3 linked regions of the Homo sapiens genome follow. The protein of the gene in region 1 interacts with the protein of each later gene in a biochemical or structural test. Each region holds a gene or a part of one and is shown in the gene's direction. Other genes may lie near its edges. The genes, in order: VRK1, PLK3 and COIL.

What was found.
Region 2: the proteins of VRK1 (region 1) and PLK3 form a complex in vitro, tested with the Homo sapiens proteins (one study listed by IntAct).
Region 3: of the proteins of VRK1 (region 1) and COIL, one has a biochemical effect on the other in vitro, tested with the Homo sapiens proteins (2 studies listed by BioGRID and IntAct, with this or other methods).

What each region holds. Positions count from the first base shown.
Region 1 is NC_000014.9:96,856,354-96,863,478, forward strand, and holds part of VRK1 (serine/threonine-protein kinase VRK1), read left to right. Parts: intron 1-174; coding exon 175-233; intron 234-4,203; coding exon 4,204-4,382; intron 4,383-7,125. UniProt on the Homo sapiens protein: Serine/threonine kinase involved in the regulation of key cellular processes including the cell cycle, nuclear condensation, transcription regulation, and DNA damage response.
Region 2 is NC_000001.11:44,803,317-44,806,555, forward strand, and holds the end of PLK3 (serine/threonine-protein kinase PLK3), read left to right. Parts: coding exon 1-75; intron 76-283; coding exon 284-375; intron 376-614; coding exon 615-708; intron 709-846; coding exon 847-930; intron 931-1,022; coding exon 1,023-1,185; intron 1,186-1,333; coding exon 1,334-1,463; intron 1,464-1,949; coding exon 1,950-2,063; intron 2,064-2,170; coding exon 2,171-2,362; 3' UTR 2,363-2,674; downstream 2,675-3,239. Other genes in the region: DYNLT4 (dynein light chain Tctex-type 4), read right to left, coding at 2,687-3,239. UniProt on the Homo sapiens protein: Serine/threonine-protein kinase involved in cell cycle regulation, response to stress and Golgi disassembly. Polo-like kinases act by binding and phosphorylating proteins that are already phosphorylated on a specific motif recognized by the POLO box domains.
Region 3 is NC_000017.11:56,957,956-56,964,950, reverse strand, and holds the start of COIL (coilin), read left to right. Parts: upstream 1-3,900; 5' UTR 3,901-3,931; coding exon 3,932-4,176; intron 4,177-6,995. UniProt on the Homo sapiens protein: Component of nuclear coiled bodies, also known as Cajal bodies or CBs, which are involved in the modification and assembly of nucleoplasmic snRNPs.

The sequences.
Region 1 (7,125 bases):
AAATAAGAAAGTACTTGTTAAACAGTAAGGTTCCTTGGTCTTTTGTTTATTTTAGAAAAATGTCTGTAAGCATATTTAGGATGTAGCACAATATAGCTTAATGTGCTATATATTTTTATTTCATATTAACATATGACATCAAGCTTCAGTGACTCATTCTTTAATTTTTAACAGATACAGAGAAAATATTGCAAGTTTGATGGACAAATGTTTTCCTGAGAAAAACAAACCAGGTAGGAAATGACTTCTTCAGTGTTAATAGGGATTTTGTTTTCTGGGGATAAAAAGGCATGATATCCATGGAATAGCCCTTAATGTAAGATGTTAGGTGGTGGCCAGGCATGGTGGCTCACACCTGTAATCCCAGCACTTTGGGAGGCTGAGGTGGGTGGATCACGAGGTCAGGAGATCAAGACCATCCTGGCTAACATGGTGAAGCCTCATCTCTACTAAAAGTACAAAAAATTAGCCAGGCGTGGTGACGCACGCCTGTGGTCCCAGCTACTTGGAAGGCTGAGGCAGGAGAATCGCTTGAACCCGGGAGGCGGAGGTTGCAGTGAGCCGAGATTGTGCCACTGCACACCAGCCTGGGTGACAGAGTGAGACTCCGTCTCAGAAAAAAAAATATGTTAGATGGTTTGTTAAATGAATACTTGAGCCTCATTCAATTATTATTCAGTGCTTTTAGCAAAGGAAGCAAATTTCATTCATACATTAAGTTAGTAAATATTGAGGCTTTATTGTGTGCCAGGGACTGGGGGTACATCAGTGAACAAAACAAATATCCCTGCCCTCATGAAGCTAGCATTGTAGTTGGAGGATTTTAGACAGTAAACACATGAGCAAAATTTATATGTTCCCCCTGGTTAGTACTGTGGAACTAGAAGAAAACAGGGAATAGAATTAGGGGGATGGGGATGGGGTGGGTAGTAAAGTAGTGAGGAGGACTGTAATTTTAAGTAGGCTGTCCAGGGACAGCCTCACTTGGAAGGTGACATTTGAGCAGTTGTAGGAAGGAGGTGAGGGAGGGAGTGAGCTGTGTAGAAGTCTGGGGAAGAGAGTTCTAGGCAGAAGGGACACTAGTGCCCAGGAGATGCGAGGACTGTGTCTTCATAGGTAAACATGAGGGCTTTGGCTTTTACTTCAAGGAAGAGTGTGAGGTTTGTAGTAGAAGAGTGACATGAACTGCTTATCCTGAGGGGAAGGGTCTCCTGCTTCTGGCATGGGGATGGACTGCTGAAGGAGCAAGGATGGGCCTAGGCAGAAAGCAGGTTAAGAGGCCACTGCAGTAACCCATGCAAGAGAAGTAGCAGCCAAAGAGTGAGAATTGGTCAGTCTGGATATATTCAGAAGTCTTTCTAAGCCTTTGCTCAGTTGTCTCCTTTTCAGGGAGGTCTATCCTGACCTTATGCTATTTAAAATTGCAACCTACTCCCCATATCAATAAATACAATGTGGGTTTCTCAGAATTATCCCATGGACCTCATAGCAATCAGTAGCCTCTCCCTCCTGGCCGAATGAGTCACTTACCTTAATTTCCAACACCAAATATTTGTGTTTAAAATTTATAGAAATGGAGTTAATACAGTGAATGAAATATGTAACAATTCCTGTCCTCTTGAAATTATTGTTTACTTCTGTTAGTGTCCTTTTCTTTCACTTAGTAATGTATTTGTGAAATTCATCCCCATTATCGCATGTTTTTTTTTGTTATTGTTGTTGTTTTGTTTTTTTGAGACAGGGTCTCACTCTGTTGCCCAGGCTAGAGTGCAGTGGCACAGTCACAGCTCACTGCAGCCTTGACCTCCTGAGCTCAAAGCCTTGACCTCCTGAGCTCAAGAGATCTTCCCACCTCAGTCTCTGAAGTAGCTGGGACTACAGGCACACGCCACCACACCTGGCTAATTAAAAATTTTTTTTTGTGGACATGTGGTCTCACTATATTGCCCAGGCTAGTCTTGAACTCCTGGGCTCAAGCAGTCCTCCTACCTCAGCCTCCCAAAGTGTTGGGATTGTAGGCATCAGCCACTGCCCTTGGCCCTATTATTGTATGTTTAACAGTAGTTTCCTCATTGTCATTTCTATATGATATTCTATTGTAGTTACATACCATTATGTATTTATTCTGCTCTTAGGTCGTCTCCAATTTTTGGCAGTTGCAGCTTGCCAATTATGCATACAGATGTATAGTCTACCTGCAGTTGGTTTTTGGGTATTATTTGAGGAGGGGTCATGTATCTTTCCTATCCCCATATTTATATCTAATTGACCCAGCAGCCTTTCTTGAAAAGACCATTCTTTCCCTTTGTTGTCATGTTTGTCATCAGTCAAGTGTGGATGTGTGGATCTGTGCACCTGTTTCTGGACTCTCTTTTTTCAATTGTCCTTTTTGCCTGTTCTTGGACCACACTGTCTTAGTTACTGTAGCTTTATTTAAAGCTTGATATCTGGTAGTTGAAATTCTTTGGCACTGCTTTTCTTTAACTGGACTTTGCTACTTTGCTATTCTTTGCCCTTTGCATTTCTATTTAAATTTTAGAATCACCTTGTCAGTTACACACACACTCACCCACCTCCAAGTTTGCTGGAACCTTGGGATTGAATTTGACTCTGTAGACCAATTTGGGGAGCACTGACATCTTTATACTGTTGAGTCTTCCAGTCCACTTATATGGTATATATTTTATTAAATTTGGTCTGTCTTAATTTCTCTCAACTGTGTTTTATAGTCTTCTCTAGGAAACTCTTGCTCATCTTTCATTGTATTTGTTGCAAAGTATTTAATGCTATTTTAGGTATTTTTTGATAGTTTATTTTCCAATTGCTTTTTGCTGGTATATAGAAATAAGATAGATTTTTATATATTTACCTTGCATTTTACGACCTTGTTAAATGTATCTACTAGTTCTAGTAGTTCTTTGTAGATTCTGTAGGATTTTCCACATGTAGTATTATGTTGTTTGTGAATAAAGACTGGTTTACATCTTCTGTTCCACTCTTTATGCCTTCTATTTATTTTCCTATCGTACTAGCTAAAAGTACACATAACTATTCTGTTATACTGAAGGGATATGGCAAAAGTGGACATTTTTCTCTCCCAGGGGAGCATTTTCAATGTTTTATCATACATGGTGATATTTGTTTTAGGTTTTTTGTACATCTCCTTTATCAGATGAAGAAATTGGAAGTTAGGGATTGTTGTCCGTTTTTTTCTTGGTATATTCCAAGTATTTAGGAATAGTGCCTGGCACATAGGAGGTGCTTAATAAATATTTGAGTTAATGAATGTGTGTATATATGCACACGCTTGTGTGTGTGTGTGTAGAACTGATAAGATCTCTTGAAGGACTGGTGTGAGAAGAAATGATTCAAGGGTGACTAACTCAGATTTTGGCTTGAGGAGCTAGAAGGATGAAAATCTCAGTAACTGAGACAGAGAAAACCTCAAGTTTTAGGGATAGGTCAAGAGTTTAGACGTGGGTTTGTTGGAATTAATGGTGATATTTACACATCCAAGGACCAGTATATGAAATGATGGATATACAAGTCTGGAGGTCGGGGGAAAGGTCTGTGTGTGAGTCATTAGCTCAAAAATGAATTTTTAATATTGAGAAGTGTTGATCTTGACTAGTAGGATTTCTTTTTTATGGTGTGGTTCTGTCTAAGTGTACAGTACACTTTTATCATTTGGAAGCTGATTTTTCTCTTTTATAGGAAAGCCAGATCTTATTTCTTTCTTCTTTCTTTGGCCTCTTTTTGGTGTGTTTTATTTCTCATTTACACGAAGAATATAGCTATCTGCTATAGAGCTAATGGCTTTGATGGCAAAAACATATTGGCTATGATATTCATTGTATTTAAGGACATTTTACTTTCTAATCTTTATTCTAGATCCCTTTGTATTTTTTTATAACTTTAATACTATAATAGTTATTTTTATGAGTATTTACATTTTAAGTTGTCTTGTTTCTCACAATTACAAAAAGTGTGTTTTACATTGTATCTCAAAATACTTTTTAAATTTCAGTTATCTGACAATTCCTGAGTTCAAAAGCATACTTTTCATTGAAGTGATTGAAAAAAATAGGTATCTTAACAAGATGTGTATTTGCATTCTAACTTTACTATAACCATGAATTATTTTTTTTAGAGGTTAGAGAGAAATATATTGAAAGTTATAAAATGATTGTGTTATTCTTTTAGGTGAAATTGCCAAATACATGGAAACAGTGAAATTACTAGACTACACTGAAAAACCTCTTTATGAAAATTTACGTGACATTCTTTTGCAAGGACTAAAAGCTATAGGAAGTAAGGATGATGGCAAATTGGACCTCAGTGTTGTGGAGAATGGAGGTTTGAAAGCAAAAACAATAACAAAGGTGAATTTTGTTATTAAATTATTCTTTGGTCTTCTTGTGTTTATAATTGCAATAAATACTAAAAGAAAGTATAGCAGTAGTTCAATGAAGAACAATAACAGATTGCATGGCAATTAAGGCAAACATTTTTTGTAATACAGAAAATGTGTAGAGGGTTGTAGAAAAATAAATATTTATATATTTCTTATGTTTAGTAGCAAGTTACTAAATTCCTGAACTGATTTTAACTTGGAATACTGATATCTGACAGGGAAATTTTGATGGTGCACTGAATTCATAATTTATATGTTCTTTTCTCCCAAGTCACCACTTAGGGTTCATCTTGTCTTGGTTGTTTCTTATTTGTGGATATGGTCAGAGTATTTACCAGTTGAAAACGGGCATTTGAAAAATTACCATTTGAAAATTTCCTTGTTTGTTGGTGTGGTGCATTTTACCATTTGAACATTATTTTGCTCTGTGAAGAAATATTATATAAAGCTATATATCAGCATATAAGGGGATTAATTGTTTGGAGAGAAATGTTAAATAATGAACTTTATGGTAGAAGTATTATACAAGCATGTAAAGAACTTCTGGCATCACTTTAGATTTTACAGGTATGCATTAACTTACTGATTTGCTATTGATTATTTTTGATAATTAACTTACTGATAAACTTACTGATTTCCCTTATAATCTGAAATTATTTAATACAATGTGTTAGCTATTTTTATATGAGGAAGGAAAACAACTTTTAGAAGAAAAATTTTTTTTACATTATTAACCATTTTTACTGTCATTAACTTTGCAAATTCTAATAGATTTATTTGGAAATCTCGTATTCCAAACTGAGAAAAAGCGTTAAAACAAATTTTTCTCTCTTTAAAATCAGACGCAGCACATTGAAAAGTTTTTATCTTTTCAATTAACAAAGGAGATAGGAATTTTGAAATTGGACCAAAAATTTAACTTTGCCAAATAGCAGGTCTCTGTAATTTCATCATAGAATCTGAAATTATATACATGCATCTACATATACTTTTTTTTCTTTGATAAGTTTTATCTTAATTGCATCTGCTCCAGTTTTGTGGTCAACAAGTGTGCTGAAAACTGTATCTGTTTGAAATGAAGAGGGTAAAATGGAAGCCTGAGTGGAATTTTTTAGTAAGGTATTATAGTAAACTTACTCTTTGCATACATGCATAAACAAGCAGCATGTTTCTTATTGCTCAGGATAGATTTCTCTGCGTTAATATTTATAGGTAGCTTGTATAGTGTTTTTCTCTAAAATTTTGGTGATTGAGAAGTAAAGATCTCTGCTGCTATGTGAGAACTTGTCCAGAGCAACCACCTCCCTCCGCCCAACCCCCATCCCCCTGTCCCCGCCCCTACCTTCCTTTGCAAATCCCTTTGTTGTTTGGACTTACATGCTGGAGAAAATGTAGTTTCTGCAGGTTGGCTGACTTTACAGCTGAGTAGGTCAGTCTGCTGCAGAGCTAACATCTGTGACCTTATAATTCTGTGGTGTCCTTGGATAGTTCAGAAGGCTGGAAATTTCCTGTTGGATCATCCCTGACATGTATAAAGCTTCATTTAGGGGAAAAAAATGAATACTAAGTTGAACAAGTTGAACTATTAGGAGATTTATTTCATTAGTTTACTACTTTTTGTACACTCATTGCTGACACAGGGTTATTCTTTGTATTAAAAAGAAATTAATAAAAGTTAAGGTTAGGTAAGATCATGAGCTGCTTGATAGCCATGTAACTGAAGTGAGTTATTAATTTTGTTAGCTTTTTTTTTTTTTGTAAAGTGAAAGAACTGGACCAGACCAGTTTTTTTTCAAGCTTTTCTTTTAAACTGCAGAACATTTTCTTCATATAATTTGTAAATGCTGTCACTGAAAACAGATAAAAGCAGAGCTCTGCTGGATGAGAAGTTGGGGGCTCCCTGCAATGAAAAGCTTTCTCCTTTGAGAAACTAGCTTGCTGCCTCTGTTTTTCAGCAAGATCTATAACCCAGATGTCTTTTTTTGCTCTGGATGTCAGGAGGCTCAAAACTAAATATGATGCTTAGTTCTAGAAACTGTTAATTTTAATAATTAGTACATTTGTTTCCTCTCTTTTCGTTTGTCATAATTTTTGAAAGTGTGAAGTATATTTTCTGTGTATATATCAGACTCAGATCTCTTTTGGAAAGGGGTAGGTTTAATCAGTTTAATATATGTTTGTATTTAGGTTCCTAAGAAATATTCTTTTTGGTAAAAACCTACAGGAATTGATGAACAGTGGAATGAAGCAAGGTTTCTTGTCTATGTTTTTGCAGCCATGCTTGATTATGGTGCAGTATATTTGGAAACTAGAGTGAAACATGAATTTACCCACTTGGAAATGTTTTCTGCTTAATAATCAAGGAGCTTTATTTAAAGCATAGAATTTTGGGATGACATAAGGCTGAAGGAGAACAGAGAGATCAAGTATACATCTGCCCTTAAAAAGTACAAAGTCAAATATTTTTATTGTTGATTAGAACTAAACATTTTCAGTTTTTAGAATCTGGCAGTACAGTGCAACAGTTATTGGATTCAGTGTATACTCATAAATTAACATTCAACAATTACATAAAAAGTCTAGTTTATGTACCTGATCTAGGCTAGGTCTCTAGGGCTACGGAGATCAATGACATGTGGTCCCATTCTTAAAGAATTCCTTCCTGTTCCATCTGGGTTAAGAACAGCTTAATTTACTGGAAAGAGCTCAGC
Region 2 (3,239 bases), on another chromosome or scaffold:
ACCTGACACCCCCCAACCCAGCTAGGAGTCTGTTTGCCAAAGTTACCAAGAGCCTCTTTGGCAGAAAGAAGAAGAGTGAGTCTGGGGTGTCAGTGGGTTGAGGGGGCAGAGCAGTAGAGCGGCTTGTCACATTTGTCTTGGGTGTGTGAGTGTGGGTGCCTGGAAACTCCTGGGGAGAGCATGTGCAGTACAGGCACTTGGGGAGGCCAATCTCTGTGTCATCCCTGTCGGAAGTGGAGGGGCTGGGCAGGATACTGAGGACGGTATCACCTTTCACCCCCAGGTAAGAATCATGCCCAGGAGAGGGATGAGGTCTCCGGTTTGGTGAGCGGCCTCATGCGCACATCCGTTGGCCATCAGGATGCCAGGCCAGAGGTGAGGCGCTCAGGTGGACACTGTTCCCCTGACTCACCCCCACCCTAGCAGCTGAGGGAAGCCGGGGATAAAAGAGGCTGCTGAAGCATCCAGCCTCGTGGTGGCCTAATTGGCTGTGTGTCACCAGCCTGGCGGGGCTGACCTGGGGTGCCCTGGGAGCCAGGGCAGGGCCAGGCCATGGACTCAAGGGTTTGGATTTTGGGGCCTGTGTCACTCCCTTTCCCTGCCCAACCCTCCAGGCTCCAGCAGCTTCTGGCCCAGCCCCTGTCAGCCTGGTAGAGACAGCACCTGAAGACAGCTCACCCCGTGGGACACTGGCAAGCAGTGGAGATGGTGAGGAGCCAGGGAGGATGAGAGGTGATAGAGGTTGCTGGAGCTGAGATCAGGGGCGAGAGGGAAGGAGTGGGCAGAGGGGCCTGGCCTGGGTCCTGGGGTGCTAATTCCTAAATCTCAGTGCCCTGTCTCCTTCAGGATTTGAAGAAGGTCTGACTGTGGCCACAGTAGTGGAGTCAGCCCTTTGTGCTCTGAGAAATTGTATAGCCTTCATGCCCCCAGGTAAGGGTGGGGTCTGGTACATGCTGCTGTGGTGGGAGTTCTGTGGCTGGGAGGCCAGGAGCAGGTGCTGACTCCCTCCTCTCCCATGACAGCGGAACAGAACCCGGCCCCCCTGGCCCAGCCAGAGCCTCTGGTGTGGGTCAGCAAGTGGGTTGACTACTCCAATAAGTTCGGCTTTGGGTATCAACTGTCCAGCCGCCGTGTGGCTGTGCTCTTCAACGATGGCACACATATGGCCCTGTCGGCCAACAGAAAGTAAGTGCTGTTATGGGGTGCCTTGTATTCAGGCCACTAATCCAGCAGGGCCGCACCCTCGTGAGTGCTCCTGGGCTCAGGGGTCTGGGTTTCTCAGAGGAGGGGCATTGGTGCAGGGCTCCCTCTGACCTCTGCCTCCCCATTCTAGGACTGTGCACTACAATCCCACCAGCACAAAGCACTTCTCCTTCTCCGTGGGTGCTGTGCCCCGGGCCCTGCAGCCTCAGCTGGGTATCCTGCGGTACTTCGCCTCCTACATGGAGCAGCACCTCATGAAGGTGTGAGGGCTGGGGCTGTGGTACATTGAAACCTAACCCATCCTGGCCGGGTGCGGTGGCTCACGCCTGTAATCCCAGCACTTTGGGAGGCCGAGGCGGGTGGATTATGAGGTCAGGAGATCGAGACCATCCTGGCTAACAAGGTGAAACCCCGTCTCTACTAAAAATACAACAAATTAGCCGGGCGTGGTGGCGGGCGCCTGTAGTCCCAGCTACTCGGGAGGCTGAGGCAGGAGAATGGGCGAACCCAGGAGGCGGAGCTTGCAGTGAGCAGAGATGGCGCACCATTGCACTCCAGCCTGGGCAACAGAGCGAGACTCCATCTCAAAAAAAAAAAATAAAGAAAAGAAAACTAACCCATCCTGATCCCTCTGATTCCCCCTTGGTGGTGGTTGGGGTTGCTGAAAGCTAGAGGATAAGGCATACACTAATGGGGAGGGGGCTGTCTCACGCTGGATCAGTGACCTGCCCTGATCCTGCTCCCAGGGTGGAGATCTGCCCAGTGTGGAAGAGGTAGAGGTACCTGCTCCGCCCTTGCTGCTGCAGTGGGTCAAGACGGATCAGGCTCTCCTCATGCTGTTTAGTGATGGCACTGTCCAGGTAAGAGCCTATCCAGGAGTTGCGGGAAGGTCTGGGAGGCCCAGGGTGCTGGGGAGGAAGCTGGGCCCGGAGCCTAGGTCCTGACCACTGTCATGCTCTGTGTGCAGGTGAACTTCTACGGGGACCACACCAAGCTGATTCTCAGTGGCTGGGAGCCCCTCCTTGTGACTTTTGTGGCCCGAAATCGTAGTGCTTGTACTTACCTCGCTTCCCACCTTCGGCAGCTGGGCTGCTCTCCAGACCTGCGGCAGCGACTCCGCTATGCTCTGCGCCTGCTCCGGGACCGCAGCCCAGCCTAGGACCCAAGCCCTGAGGCCTGAGGCCTGTGCCTGTCAGGCTCTGGCCCTTGCCTTTGTGGCCTTCCCCCTTCCTTTGGTGCCTCACTGGGGGCTTTGGGCCGAATCCCCCAGGGAATCAGGGACCAGCTTTACTGGAGTTGGGGGCGGCTTGTCTTCGCTGGCTCCTACCCCATCTCCAAGATAAGCCTGAGCCTTAGCTCCCAGCTAGGGGGCGTTATTTATGGACCACTTTTATTTATTGTCAGACACTTATTTATTGGGATGTGAGCCCCAGGGGGGCCTCCTCCTAGGATAATAAACAATTTTGCAGAATTGGACTCCCCCTCACTCGCAGTAGAGCCCGTGGACCGTGGCCACCGCGAAGAGCGAGGTGTTGGTGTAGGAGACCGAGGCCAGCCCATCGCGCGCCACGTCCCAGAGCGCACGGCTGACCACGTGAACGCCCTGGCCCGCGCGCGGCCCCAGCACCACACTGCATACCAGCTTGTAGCGTGGCGGGCTGAGCTCGCGCAGGCGAACGTGCACCTGCTCGCAGAGCTCCCGCACCAGCCGCGCGGCCTCGTCGCTGGAGTAGCACGCGTCGTGCAGCCCTGCGGCCAGCGCCGCCTCCAGGGCACGCTGTGCACGCGCAGCCTCCCAGCGCTCCCCGGGCACTGGCTCCGTGCGGTAGGAGGGCGCCACCCAACGGGCGGGCGCCAGGGGCAACCCTGAGAAGCTGACCCTTGAGCCCAGAGGGGGCACCGGGCCCAGGGATGGCCGCTGACCCCCAGGACCCGCGCCTGGCCCGACCAGCGAGTTGCGGCGGGAGAAGGACGCGGCCAGGCCCAGCATGGAGCCCCGGCGCGAGGCCGGGGCTGGACCTGGACCTGCCGGTCGG
Region 3 (6,995 bases), on another chromosome or scaffold:
CCCCGTCTCTACTAAAGATACAAAAAATTAGCCAGGCGTGGTGGCACCTGCCAGGAGATTGAGATCAGTCTGGAAGACATAGTCCAACACTATCTCTACAAAAAAATTAAAAATTAATGGACATGGTAGTCCTAGCTACTTGAAAAGCTGAACTGGGAGGGTCACTTGAGCCCAGGAGTCTGAGGCTACAGTGAGCTATGATCACACCACTGCTCTGCACTGTGGGCGCAATCTGTCTCTAAAAGAAAACAAGGGCCAGGCGCGGTGGCTTAAGCCCATAATCCCAGCACTTTGGGAGGCCGGGTGGATCACTTGGGGTCAAGAGTTCCAGACCAGCCTGGCCAACATGGTGAAACCCTATATCTACTAAAAATGCAAAAATTAACCTGGCATGGTGGTGTACACCTATGAAACCCTGTATCTACTAAAAATGCAAAAACTAGTCTAGCGTGGTGGTGCGCACCTATAGTCCCAGCTACTCGGGAGGCTGAGGCAGGAGAACTGCTTGAACCTGGGAGGCAGAGGTTGCAGTTAGCCAAGATCACGCCACTGCACTCCAGACTGGGCAACAGAGTGAGACTCCCTCTCAATAAAAAAAGAAAAGAAGAAAAGAAAAAAGACTGTATGGTGTTGGTGGAGGGAAAGACATATAGATCAATGAAACAGAACAGAGAATCCAGAAATAGATGTACACAAATATGCCCAACTGATTTCTGACAAACATTCAAAAGATTCAAAATGGAGGACATATAGTGTTATTAACAAATAGTACTGGAGCAATTGGACATCAAGAGGCAAGCAAACAAACAAAAATGAACGCTGATATAACTCTTACACAAAAATTAACTCAGGCTATGGCTCACACGAGTAATTCCACTGCTTTGGGAGGCTGAGCTGGGAGGATTGCTTGAGCCCAGAAAGTAGGGGCTGCAGTGAGCTATGATCTTGCCACTGCACTCCAGCCTGGACAACAGAACAAAAAACAAACAGGCTGGGCACAGAGGCTCCCGCCTGTAATCCCAGCTCTTTGGGAGGCCGAGGTGGGCAGATCACCGGAGGTCAGGAGTTCAAGACCAGCCTGACTAACATGGTAAAACCCTATCTCTACTAAAAATACAAAAATTAGCCAGGCGTGGTGGCGGGTGCCTGTAGTCCCCAGCTACTCGGGCAGCTGAGGCAGGAGAATCACTTGAACCTGGGAGGCAGAGGTAGCAGTGAAGAAAAAATTGATCGACCAGACTTCATCACAATTTAGAACTTTTGGTCTGTGATAGGCCCTATTAAGAGAATGATTAAAAAAAAAAAAAAGCTCCAGAGTCAAAGAAAATAATCCGCAATCCACATATCTGACAAAGTACTGTTACTGGTGGAGGGTGTTCTTGGCATCTTGAACAGAGAATTGGACAAAACGCACAAACAAAGCAAGGAAAGAATGAAGCAACAAAAACAGAGATTTACTGAAAATGAAAGTACGCTCCACAGGGTGGGAGCAGGCCCGAGCATAGGGGCTCAAGGGCCCTGTTACAGAATTTTTGGGGGCTTAAATACCCTCCAGAGGTTTCCACTGGTTTCTTGGTGTATGTCCTATGTAAATGGAGAGGATGAGGTAAAGTTAGAAAGTCATTTACTCCTCGTATGCCCTATGTAAATGAAGAGGATATTTCCTGTCACAGCTGAAGTGTGAATTGGCCTTATGTTCCCTGCCTCCAGATCCTATTTTCCTGCCTCAGTACTACTATCTAGAATACATAAAGAACTCTCAAAATTTAACAATCTAATAAGAGTAGATGTAAAAGACTTGAAGAGAATTTCACTGAAGAAGCACATAAACACAGGAAAAATGTTCAACATTATTAGCCATTAGAAAATACAAATTAAAACCACAAGAGGCTGGGCATGGTGGCTCATGCCTGTAATCCCAATATTTGGGAGGCTGAGGTGGGAGGATAGCTTGAGCCCAAGAGTTTGAGACCAGTCTGGGCAATGTGGCAAAACTCCGTCTCTACAAAGATTACAAAATTTAGCAGGGCATGGCAGTGCATGCCTGTAGTCCCAGCCACTCAGGAGGCTGAAGTGGGAGGTTCATTTGAGCTTCAGAGGTGAAGGCTGCAGTAAGCCTTGTGATCACGCCACTGCACTTCAGCACTGGAGACATAATGAGACCCAGCCTCAAAACAAACAAACAAATAAATAAAACCACAACATACCACAACACATCTACCAGAATGACTAAAAAATAGTGACAATGCCAAATGGTAGTCAGGATGTGGAGAAACTGGGATTACAGGGGTGAGCCACTGCGCCCAGCCGGAAATGCCCAAAAGTTATCCTGTATGGTGTAAAAGGGGAGTAACCCTCAGTTCTGAGGGAAATCCCTGCCCCTTTCCTAGGGATACAGAAAACTCATGAATAATCCATCCTTTGTTTAGCATACAGTCAAGAAGTAACTATAAGTATACTTGACTGAGTATACTTATAGTATGGGCTCGCTGCTCTGTCTATGGAGTAGTCATTCTTTTATTCCTTTAATTCTCTAATAAACTTGATTTTAGTCGGAGGTGGTGGCTCATGCCTGTAATCCCACCACTTTGGGAGGCCAAGGCAGGCAGATTGCTGGAATTCAGGAATTCGAGACCAGCCTGGCCACCATGGAAAAACCCTATCTCTACAAAAAATACAAAAATTAGCTGGGCTTGGTGGCTCACACCTGTGGTTCCAGCTACTAGGAAGGCTGAGGTGGGAAGTCACTTGAACCCGGGAGGCAGAGTGCACCACGGCACTCCAGCCTAGGTGACAGAGCAAGACTCTAAAAAAAGAAAATCCAAAAACCCTTACTTTCAGTTAAAAAATTTTGTTTTCAATTCATCTACTGACTCCCTGGTATCTACAACTTAACTAGTCTAGTGAACTTGGGGAAGTTACTCCTTTTTTTTTTTTTAAGACAGAATCTTGCTCTATTGCCCAGGCTGGAGTGCAGTGGCACGATCCTGACTCACTGCAACCTCCACCTCTTGGGTTCAAGCGATTCTACTGCTTCAGTCTCCCGAGTAGCTGGAATTATAGGCACATGCCACCACACCCGGCTAATCTTTATATTTTTAGTAGAGTTGGGGTTTCACCATTTTGGCCAGGGTGGTCTCAGACTCCTGGTCTCAAGTGATCCGCCCACCTTGGCCTCTCAAAGTGCTGGGATTACAGGCGTCAGCCACTGCTCCTGGCCTCTAGTTACTTCTTAAACTCTCTGAACCTTGTTTTTTTTAAATCCTCTAAATAAGGATAACAGTTCATAATTCCTAACTTTTGTTATGAAAATTAAAGGAGTTAATATATATTATGTGGAGAAATGTAAATTCTAGTTCAAAAAATAGAAGAAATAATGTAAATACTGATTTATTTATCTGGTGAGAAATGCAAGGACATTTTTGTTTGGTGGTGGGTATTAAAAGGCTAAGGTATTTATATTCCACTGGATACATTTGGAAGAATGATTAACAGTGTTATTTCAAAATTTCAACATTGAGAACACACTAGGACTTACATCTTTTTCAACTCATCATGATGAAAAATTTTGTCAGCGAAATGTGTTAGGATTGTTTTATAAAAATCTTTCACGTCGATGAGCAAATATCTTAGAAGACTACTGCTGAGGAGAAATGTTATTTATCCAGAGAGTTGCCTTAATTAGGAGACCCTACATAGCGCCCAGTAGAAATGTAATAAAGGCATTTCACTTATTCCCTTCCTCAGCCCTGCCGTGAACAAAATTGAATGAAATCAACCACGCTCCGAGTTCTCGCCTAGACGCAGCCTGTAGTAGCCAGGTTTCACCACTAGGTGGCACACGCCAAAGGCTCCGGCGGGGGCGAGCCGCCCGAGCACGCCTCTCGGTGGCCCCGTGGTATCTCTCGGCTTCCGTTGAGCACCAAGCAAGATGGCAGCTTCCGAGACGGTTAGGCTACGGCTTCAATTTGATTACCCGCCGCCAGCTACCCCGCACTGTACGGCCTTCTGGCTTCTGGTCGACTTGAACAGATGCCGAGTCGTCACAGATCTCATTAGTCTCATCCGCCAGCGCTTCGGCTTCAGTTCTGGGGCCTTCCTAGGCCTCTACCTGGAGGGGGGGCTCTTGCCCCCCGCCGAGAGCGCGCGCCTTGTGAGAGACAACGACTGCCTCAGGTGCGCGGCGCAGGGAGCGGGACGGCCGGGTGGGCGGCGGGCGGGGGACGCGCCTGCGCACGCCCGGGCCTGAAGCCGCTAGACCTGGTAGTGGAGGGGATGGGGGATGGGGAAGGGGACGAGGGTTGGAGGGGGGTGGGGCTGTAAAAATGCACGTTCGCGAACCCCGGAGATCCTGATTGGTGTAGTCAACTTTGGGGCTCAGGAATCTGCATTTTATTATTATTTTTTATTATTATTTTTTTTTTTTTGAGACGGAGTCCTGCTTTGTCACCCAGGCTGGAGTACAGTGGCGCGATCTCGGTTCACTGCAACCTCCACCTCCCGGGTTCAAGCAATTTTCCTGCCTCAGCCTCCCGAGTAGCTGGGACTACAGGCGTCCGCCACCACGCCCGGCTAATTTTTGTATTTTTAGTAGAGATGGGGTTTCACCATATTGGTCAAGGTGGTCTCGAACTCCTGACCTCAGTTGATCCGCTTGCATCGGCCTCTCAAAGTGCTGGGATTGCAGGCGTGCACCACCGCATCCTGCCCCTATTATTTTTATTTTTGAGACTGAGTCTCATTCTGTCACCCAGGCTGGAGTGCAGTGGCGCGATCTCAGCTCACTGCAGCCTCCACCTCCCGGGTTCAATCGATCCTCCCACCTCAGCCTCCCGAGTAGCTGGGCTTACAGGCGGGCGCCACCATGCCCGGCTAATTTTTTGTTTGTTTGTTTGTATTTTTAGTAGAGACGGGGTTTCACCGTGTTGGCCAGGCTGGTCTTGAACTCCTGACGTTAAGTGATCCTCCCGGCTTCCCAAAGTGCTGGGATTACAGGCGTGAGCCTCCGCGCCTGGCTGGAATCTGCAGTGTAACGAGCATCCTTCCCGGGATGCTTCTGATGACAGGAGAATCAAACTTGGAAAATCCCTGATGCCTAAGGGCAGGGCCAGGCTTTCTTTCAGCCTTGATTTAGCACATCCGCGCTTAGCTAGGCACTGTGCGACTCTGTTGCGTGCCCATGGTGCAGATGTGCCGGAGACCCGGCCTTACCCATGGCGGCCTTCAGGGTCAGGTGCAGGAAGCTGACAAAGGGGAATCGTTGTGTTTTCTTCATAACCTGCTGTTGTCCAGCCTTAGTTCTCATGTGCCCAGTGTCCCCTGAGACTTCTGGTGGCGTATCATTTTGTGTCTCACCCAGACATTTTGGGATTCTCTCAAATAAGTGTCTTGAGTCCTTTTGGGCTGTAAATTGGGAAACACAAAATAATCTTAAATATGCTTTTGGAAGTTAAAAAAATGATAATGAGATGAGTATCCAGGAGCAATTGTAGTGTGAATTGCTGAAATGTGGTTGAGTTGCCACAGTAAGATGATGGTATCTGATCATTCCAGTTTGGATTCATATCTTGGACTGATTTATTCAGACTTTTTTTTTTCTTTTTTAAATAAAGAGACTGGGTTTCCCATGCCCAGGCTGGAGTGCAGTGGTACGATCATAGCTTGCTGTAACCTTGACTTCCTGGGCACAGGCAATCCTCCCACCTCAGCCTCCCGAGTAGTTGGGACTTCAGGCCAGGCAACCACGCCTGGCTAATTTTTGTATTTGTTGTAGAGACAGGGTTTCGCCATGTTGCCCAGGCTGGTCTCGAATCCCTGGGCTCAAGCTGTCCTCTCACCTCAGCCCCCCAAAGCACTGGGATTACAGGCGTAAGCCACTGTGCCAGCCTTCCTTCCCCCACCCCCTTTAAGCTTCAGCTACAGTGAATTAATTCCAGAGTTGTGAACCAGGCTATTTTCTCTTGCTGCCCTTTGTCGTTGAATATTCCTTACCCTCAAGCATGTCAGATTCCGTAAGATTTCTTCAGAACATCAGGGAATTTAATTTGGAACAGTAACTGCATCTTTAAATCAGGATATTATGATTTATTGAATAATGTTCAACTGTTTCAAATGACAATTTGAAATAATCCAAATTTCAAAGAGTTTTTTTTCCCCCTTTTTATTGACTGTGAAATAGGTCTCTATTCTCTCTGCAATTCAAGGATTATTTAAATGTTACAATTCTAAGGATTGTGTCCCATCCTATTAAGTTTACTTTCTGAACTGTCTCTTGCCTAATGAGTTAATAACTTGTGCTAACTATAATTATACTTTAATGAATCATGTGGGCATTACATTCTTCATAATGAAGTTAACAATGACAAAAACAAACCATGAAAACTGTTATAAGTAATAATTACAACACGATGACAGGCAAATCTTTCCTAAATGCTTCAAATGCACAGCTGCATGTGGCAAAAAATACCTCTCTAGTGGCTTCAGTGGCAAATGGGCAGACCGTAGAAAAAGATGAATCTGGAAAGTTCGTCTTTGTTTTTGTTGTTTTATGTCCACAATCATTGTTTTTCCCTGGCAAATTCACTTTTCTTCAGAGCTACGGAAGAACACATAGTCTCTATTCTCAAAGTACCCAATATTGTTGGACTGGGACCCAAATAATGAGTCTCATGCTTTTGTATATTACCTTCTGTGATACAGACAATTAGACTGAATAGTTAGACCAAGTTATATGGTAAGTGCAGAAGCTGGTTGAGAAAAGGGAGATCAGCATGGAACAAAATGGTTAGGGAATTGAGCAGTACCTTGAAGAATGGGTGGGAAATGTTGGATGATCAAAGCACAGTTATAGAGACAAAAGCTGGCTGGACTTGGTAAAAAGATGAGTCTGACCAGCCAAAGCATTCTGTTGGGATCATTGGCAGTACTGAGAAGGCTAATGAGGAAAAGTGGAACTAGGTTGTGGGAATCCTGAGAAACAGCCTTTGAGGCTTTGG